2 linked regions of the Homo sapiens genome follow. The protein of the gene in region 1 purifies or fractionates together with the protein of each later gene. This does not show direct contact. Each region holds a gene or a part of one and is shown on either strand. Other genes may lie near its edges.

Region 1 (3,817 bases):
TACAGCATGGTGAGGTTGATGAAAAATAATGCATCTTATACTTGAAAATTGCTAAGAAAGTAAATAAGAAATGTTCTCGTCACAAAAATATATGAGGTATAGATTTGTTAATTAGCTTAATTTAATCATTTCACAATGTATAGTTATCACATTGTACAGTTTTCGTATACAAAATACATACAATTTTTGTCAATTATAGCTTAATAAAACTGGGAGGTAAAAGTAAGTTAAATAAAGATGAAGATAGAAACTTAAAATGGAACATACACACAGAAAAATACCACCTCCTCAAATCTACGCCCATCCAGCCTGAGCTTCCCCTTCAGACACAGTGAAGAGGCTGCCTTCCACTGAGACCCCTAGAATGGCACTGCCATCTGTGTGGGCTCCTGGCCCCGTCCTTTGTTCCACATAGCCACTCCTGCAGCTGCTGTTTCCTGCAGGCTTTGTATTCCAGGTCTGAAAGGCCAGGGACACTGGCCTCTGGGGTTTGCTTTGATAATGACTTAACATGTGACCTGGGGTTAACCAGTAGACTATAGCACAGCTCTCCAAGTCTTAATCTGAGAAAGGAGTACCTTTTGAAACAGAGCTCATTTTTACATGGCTGCACTGTTGGCAGGGGATGTGGCTCATGGCAGAAGCCTGAACAAAGGGTAGTTTCCAATTCCAGGAGAGAAGAGTGGCAGAGTCCCTGGTAGCCCAAAATAAGGCTGGTGAGATGGTCCCAAAGCCACACTTTACATTTTGTATGAGGGTCTTTAGGACACTGTGTCAAATGCTCTTTCAGGAGTACCTACAGTGGTAACAGTTTTTCTTTTTTGTTTAATTTCTGTCTTCAAATTGACAAAAAAAAATTGTATGTATTTACAGTGTACAGTGTAATGTTTTGATATCTATACACATTGTGAAATGATTAAACCAAGCTACTTAGCTGGGCATGGTGGCACACCTGTAGTCCCAGCTACTCAGGAGGCTGAGGTGGGAGGATCCCTTGAGCTCAGGAGTTCTGTTCCAGCCTAGGCAACCTAGTGAGACCAGTCTCTTAAAAAAAAAAAAAGTCAAGCTAATTAATATAATGCATTACCTCATATACCTATCCTTTTTCTGTGTGTGGTGAAAATACTTCAGATCTACCCTCTTAGCAATTTTCAAGTACACAGTACGTTGTTACTGCCTATAGTCACCATGTTGTGCAATAGGACTCCTGAGTTTACTCCTCTCATGTCACTGAAATTTTGTACACTTTGACCAATGTCTCCCCAGTCCCCTCATTCCCTAGCCTCTGGTAACCAGCATTCTGATCTCTGCTTCTATGAGTTCAACTTTTTTAGAGTCCACATTTAAGTGAGAACATGCAGTATTTCTTTTTGTGTCTGGCTTATTGCTCGTAGCATGTCTTTCAGGTTCATTCATGTCGTCAAAAATGACAGGATTTTCCTTCTTTTTTTATGGAGTTCCACAGTAATTCTGATTGCCAACAGCCCTTACTTTTTTTTTTTTTTTTTTTCATTTGAGACAGAGCCATGTTCTGTCACCCAGGCTGGAGTGCAGTGGTGCAGCTGTGGCTCACTGCAGCCTCCATCTCTCAGGCTCAAGCAATCCTTCTGTTTCAGCTTCCCAGTTTTTTTATTTTTAATAGAGATGCGGTCTCCCTATGTTGCCCAGACTGGTCTTGAACTCCTGAGCTTAAGCAATCCTCCCACTTTGGCTTCCCAAAGAGCTAGGATTACAGGCATGAGCCACCACATCCAGACCCTAAGAGTCCTTATAGATTCCTCAACTCTACGGCTTTTTCTTTTTCTTCTTCTTTTTTTTTTTCTTTTTCTTTTTAAGAAACAAATACTCTGTGTTGTCCCTGCTGGTCTGGAACTCCTGGGCTCAAGTGATTCTCCCACCTCAGTCCCCAAAATAAGAATAGCTGAGATTACAGGCATGTACCACCACACACGGCTGAACTCCATAGAGTTTTAACCTTTATTTTCCCATAGTTTGGATAACAATGCTGAGGTCCGGGGACCTACCCGAGGTGAAAGAGTTCATTTAATTGACCGTGCTATCATGAACCCAGGCACACTCTGTTACAGCCCCCCTTGTTATATCTGGAAACAAAGTCGCAGCAATCTTTGTGGTTTACAGAGTACTTTTCATGTGCGTCATTTTGTAATCCTCATTTTACAGTTAAGAACAGAGACTGGGGTTTTATGAAAAGCACCATGAAACAGTTCCCTGTTGGTGCCTCTCTTGTGATTTTCTTTGCTACCAAAATGGAAATGAAGAGCCGCAGGAAGCTCAGAAGGTATCAGCACCAGGCCTGGCCCTGGCCCACTTTAGGACACCATTTTCTGATCTCTTTCAGTTCTGCAAGATGCTTTCCTTCTTCAGGAAGAGAATGTGCGGGACACACAGCAGGTGACCACCCTCCAGCTACCCCCGGTGAGTGGTTTCTACAGGAGTCCTTGAAAATCCCCTGTTTGCCTCTGTAGGCTACAGGGCAGCTTTCTTAGGACCCCAGCCAGCTTTCTGACTGCCACACAGGATGTTCAGTCCCAGCCCAGAAAAGCTAAAATAGGCAGAGCGTGAGCTTAAGAGACGCCCCATTTCTCCTCCTTCCCTGTGGTCCCAGCCGCCCACTGGGTCTACTGTCATCAGGCCACCTTCAGGAAGCTTTGTGCAGACGATAGCAGGAAACAAAGGCCCATGAGTCCCCATTGATGGGCCTCTCAGCATGTCTAAGTTCCCCTCTTGTGAAAAAGGAGATCTCTCTGCTCTTTTATTTTACAGAGAATTTTTCAATTTAATAATCATCGCAGCAATGGTTATATTTTAGAAATGTTAGGAAGTGGAGGGAAGAAAGCACAGATAATTTCAGTCCTGTCACAGATCTACGTGGTGAGTCATTCCAGAATTTCCTCGAATGTTCTCGTTCGTGTTTTTGTGTAAGACTTGCTTACTCGGGTGCTCTGAGGAGTCAGAGTCAGGGCTGGGGGCTGGTCCAGCAGGTGATCTTACTCGCCTCTCTCTAGCCCAGTTGCTGTCTTTGGCCATGTTTTCTGGCCATATCTCCTTCACTTTCCCTCCTAACACTTTCCACTGGCTGGCACAAGATTTAGTTATGACAGCATCATCCCCTCCCATGGGAACAGGATGTGTGGCTCCTGCTTTTGTTTAGTTGCTCCTTACCCAACAGAAAACTGTGAAAAACAGTAGACACTCTTATTACCATGTCTCAGCAGAATGTCGGAAGCTGAGCAGTTTGCTTTCTGCACAGTTCATTTGACATGACTTTATTTTATTTTTATTTTTAGAGACAGGGTCTTGCCTTGTCACCCAGGCTTCAATGCAGTGGCACAGTCGTAGTTCACTGCAGCCTCAAACTCCTGAGCTCAAGCCATCCTCCCACCTCGGTCTCCTGAGCAGCTGGGACTACAGGTGCATGCCACTACACCCAGCTAAGTTTTGTATTTCCTTGTAGAGACAGGGTCTCGCCATGTTGCCCAGGCTGGTCTCAAACTCCTGACCTCAAGTGATCCTCCTGTCTCAGCCTCCCAAAGTGCTGGGATTACAGGCATGAGCCACTGTGCCCAGCCAACATGACTTTAAACTTGGAGAAGGGAGGGCTAGGGATGGGAAGGAGTTAGCCAGGTTACCCAGTTAGGGGGCATCTCCATAACTTGCTTTTGCCCCACCAGAAATGTGGCACACGCCTGTTTACCCTGATGCTCAACACATACATGTCAGCATCTGCTGTGTACTGTGACCATTTCCAAACACAAAGGAGGTAAAACCAGTATTTCTTATTAAAATTTGGACATTT
Region 2 (3,817 bases), on another chromosome or scaffold:
ACCGCAACCTCCACCGCCCGGGTTCAAGTGATTCTCCCTCCTCAGCCTCCCGAGTAGCTGGGATTACAGGCATGTGCCACCACACCCGGCTAATTTTGTATTTTTAGTAGAGATGGGGTTTCTCCATGTTGGTCAGGCTGGTCTTGAACTCCTGACCTTAGGTGATCCACCCACCTCGGCCTCCCAAAGTGCTGGGATTACAGGCGTGAGCCACTGCACCCAGCCTGCCTTGTGTATTTTAAAGCACAGCCAAGATCTCATATAATTTTACCTGCAGATACTGGACCACGAAAACCTGTGAAACATAATCCAAATATCCTATCACTGCCAGCAATAATTTATTAACATCATCTAATACTCAGGCAATATCCAGTTTTCCCTGATTGTCTTGAAAATTATTCGTTGCTTGCTGTTCTTTTTCATAACCTGTTCTTTTCCTTGATAGAACTTACCACAATTTGCTGTTTTGTTCTTTCATGTGTATGTGTTTTATGTCTGACTCAACCACTAGACTGGGAGCTCCCTGGCAGGGGAACCATGTCTGACTTGAGCCTAGCACAGTGCCTGACACATAGTAAGTCCTTCATGAATACTTATTGCGGGGAACTCAGAGAGGCTGAGTGACTCACCCAAGATCACCCAGTTTAAAAGTGGAGATGTCACAGCGACATCCTGGTTTGAACCCAGGACTCCGACTCCTAAATCATGACCTGAACCACTACCCATTAATGAATTAGAACATTCATTGGTTCATCCCACAAACATAGATGGAGTGCTCCAGCCCCATGGAAATAGGAATCTGCCGTGGCCCTTCAAAGACAGTGTCATCTAATGGGAGAAATGACTATGTGTCAAGGTAGAAAGCCACAGTTGGGAGAGACCCCCTTCAGCTAAAGGGCTGGGGAGCAGGGAGGTGTCCCTAGAGGAAGCACCATCAGAGGCAGATTGTTAAGAGGTCACAGAATGCGGAAATCAGATGGGCACCTGGAAGAAAGGGCACTATGAGCAGAGGCTCAGAGGAGGGAAACACAGTGGGGAGGACTGAGTCCCAGGCGGGGGAGGGGAGGGGTGTGAGGTCAGGCAGGGAGGGGTGTGAGGTCAGGCAGGGAGGGTCAGTGGGCTGGGGCACTCAGGCACCACCTGCAACAGCACCACCTGCAACAGGGGAGGAGGTCACAGAAAGCCCCAAGGACACCAATGCTGGGCTAACCCTGTGTGATGCAGAGTGGAGGTGTCAGTTTCTGTGCGGTTCAGGGGCGCCCTGGGGATAGGGCAGGGCCAGAGCAGGGGAGGTCACTGGCCCTATGTGGGCCATCTGAGTTTTCCCTAAGGTCCCAATTCCGTGATCTTTTAGTTCCTTCCTTTACTCTGTCAAAGACACAAGAACGGATCTGTTTGCTTTGTGAAGAGGCTCAAATGAATATTCTACTTAAGCTTTCCATTACGTGAGCATTTAGTATGTGCCAGGCACTGTGCTGGGCCCTACAACTCTGCCAACAACCCTACGAAGAAGTCAGTACTGTTATTTTCCCTATGTTGGAAATGAGGAAACTGAGGCACGGAGAGGCTAAGACCACACTGCCTGCAAGTGGTACAGCCAGGGATGGCCCCAACTGAAATTTGGTTCTGAAATTTGGGTTCTTATCCACTATCCTGCACTGTCTCCAAAATGTGTCCTTAAAATATATGTGTGAGCCACATATATTTTATTTATACATATTTATTTATTTATTTATTCATATTTACGAAGTCAGGACATCTCAAAAGCCATACCTTACTCTAAATACAAAGGAAACTTGCCTTTTTCACGTAAAAACTTCCATGTAGAAATATTCGGAGGCTAGACCAGATGCGGTGGTTCATGCCACCTGTAATCCCAGCACTTTGGGAGGCCGAGGCAGGCAGATCACCTGAGGTCAGGAGTTCACGACCAGCCTGGCCAACACGGCGAAAGTCCATCTCTACTAAAAATACAAAAATTAGCCGGGTGTTGTGGTGGTCGCCTGTAATCCCAGCTACTCGGGAGGCTGAGGCAGGAGAATTGCTTGAACCTGGGAGGCAGAGGTTGCAGTGAGCCGAGATCGTGCCATTGCACTCCAGCCTGGGTGACAGGAGCGAAACTCCTTCTCAAAAAAAAAAAAAAAATTAGAAATATTCTGAGACTTTAGATAAGATAATTGATTGTTCCAAATAGGTTTCTTTATGCATTCAAAGTTGGGTCCACTGTGCTCTCTTAAGGCAAGTGTGATTTGGCTTTAGTTTCCTTGGCTTCTGTGCCTTGGCACTGATACTTGTGTAAGCTGCTGTAATTCTCATCTAGTATTAAGACAGAAGAAACACTATTCATGTGAACTTTTCCACCTTCCTTCCAGCCCCCTCCCCCAGCTTGTCAAAGAGGATTCTGGCTTTTCCCCTTCTTTCCTTATGCTGATTTGAAATATATTTCTCCTTGATGAGGCTTGAAAAATGCAAGTAAAAGTCTTATGTAACAATGTAATCCAGATCTAAATTTTAAATGATAACTGAAAATCTTCATACGTTTGGAAACTAAGAAATGCACTTGTAAATAACCCATAGGTCAAAGAAAAGATAATAATGAAAAATAAGTGCATTTTGATCTAGGTAGAGGAAAAATACTACACATCAAAATGCAATGCAGCTAAAATAGTACTTAGAGGACAATGCATAGTCTTCAATGTGTATATTGTAAAAGTACTTGGCTTACTCTGGAATTGCCTTCTGGAATTTTACTGTATTTTTTTTTTTAACTTTGATGTCCTTTGTGGTCAAACCCAGAGTTCCTGCTAGTCTGTGTCACCCAGCAGTATCATGAATTTCTCTCTCCCAGGGTCACTCAGCTGCCGCAAGGAGCAAGGCAAGTTCTATGACCATCTCCTGAGGGACTGCATCAGCTGTGCCTCCATCTGTGGACAGCACCCTAAGCAATGTGCATACTTCTGTGAGAACAAGCTCAGGAGCCCAGTGAACCTTCCACCAGAGCTCAGGAGACAGCGGAGTGGAGAAGTTGAAAACAATTCAGACAACTCGGGAAGGTACCAAGGATTGGAGCACAGAGGCTCAGAAGCAAGTCCAGGTAAGCCACCCAAGGCAAACCTGCATGGTGTCACGCAGGGTGAGAAAGCGTGGGAGGCCTGATGCCAGGCCTAGAACAGGAGAGTCCACAATGCATGAAGCCCAGAGTCCAAGCAAATGGCCAGAAGCCAGGGAGATCATCCCAGGATAAAAAAAACAATGTAGGCAACATTTCCAGAAGTCTGTGGACAAGAAGAAAGCAGGAGAAAGGACCTGCCGTGTGAGGAAGAGCCTTGCACTAGAGGCTGCCGAGGCTGTGCCAGTCATTGAAGCACAGGCACAAGTAAGCAGCAGACCCACCTGTGTGAGCACCTGAGCAGCAGCCACCACCTGCCCTCCACCAGTGCTGCAGACTCCATTTATTTCTATTATTATTTTATTTATAATTTCAACTTTTTTTTTTAGATCCGGGGGTACATGTGTAGGGTTTGTTACATGGGTATGTTGCTTGATGCTAAGGTTTGAGGTACAAATGGTCTTGTCACCCAGGTGGTGAGCATAGCACCCAATAGGTAGTTTTTCAGCCCTTGCCCTCTCTCTCTGCCTCCCCCTTCTAGTAGGCCCCAGTGTCTGTTGTTCCTGTCTTTATGTCCATCTGTATTCGACACTTAGCATTTCACTTATAAGTGAGAACATGTGGTATTTTCTGTTTCTGCATTAATTCACTTAGGATAATGGCCTCCAGTTGCATCCATGTTGCTGCAAAAAACGTATTTTTCTTTTT

What was found.
Region 2: the proteins of ZNF496 (region 1) and TNFRSF13B purify together in Homo sapiens (co-immunoprecipitation; one large-scale study listed by IntAct). This does not show direct contact.

Annotation. Positions count from the first base shown.
Region 1 is NC_000001.11:247,321,773-247,325,589, reverse strand, and holds part of ZNF496 (zinc finger protein 496), read left to right. Parts: intron 1-2,359; coding exon 2,360-2,436; intron 2,437-3,817. UniProt on the Homo sapiens protein: DNA-binding transcription factor that can both act as an activator and a repressor.
Region 2 is NC_000017.11:16,948,015-16,951,831, reverse strand, and holds part of TNFRSF13B (tumor necrosis factor receptor superfamily member 13B), read left to right. Parts: intron 1-2,848; coding exon 2,849-3,094; intron 3,095-3,817. UniProt on the Homo sapiens protein: Receptor for TNFSF13/APRIL and TNFSF13B/TALL1/BAFF/BLYS that binds both ligands with similar high affinity. Mediates calcineurin-dependent activation of NF-AT, as well as activation of NF-kappa-B and AP-1.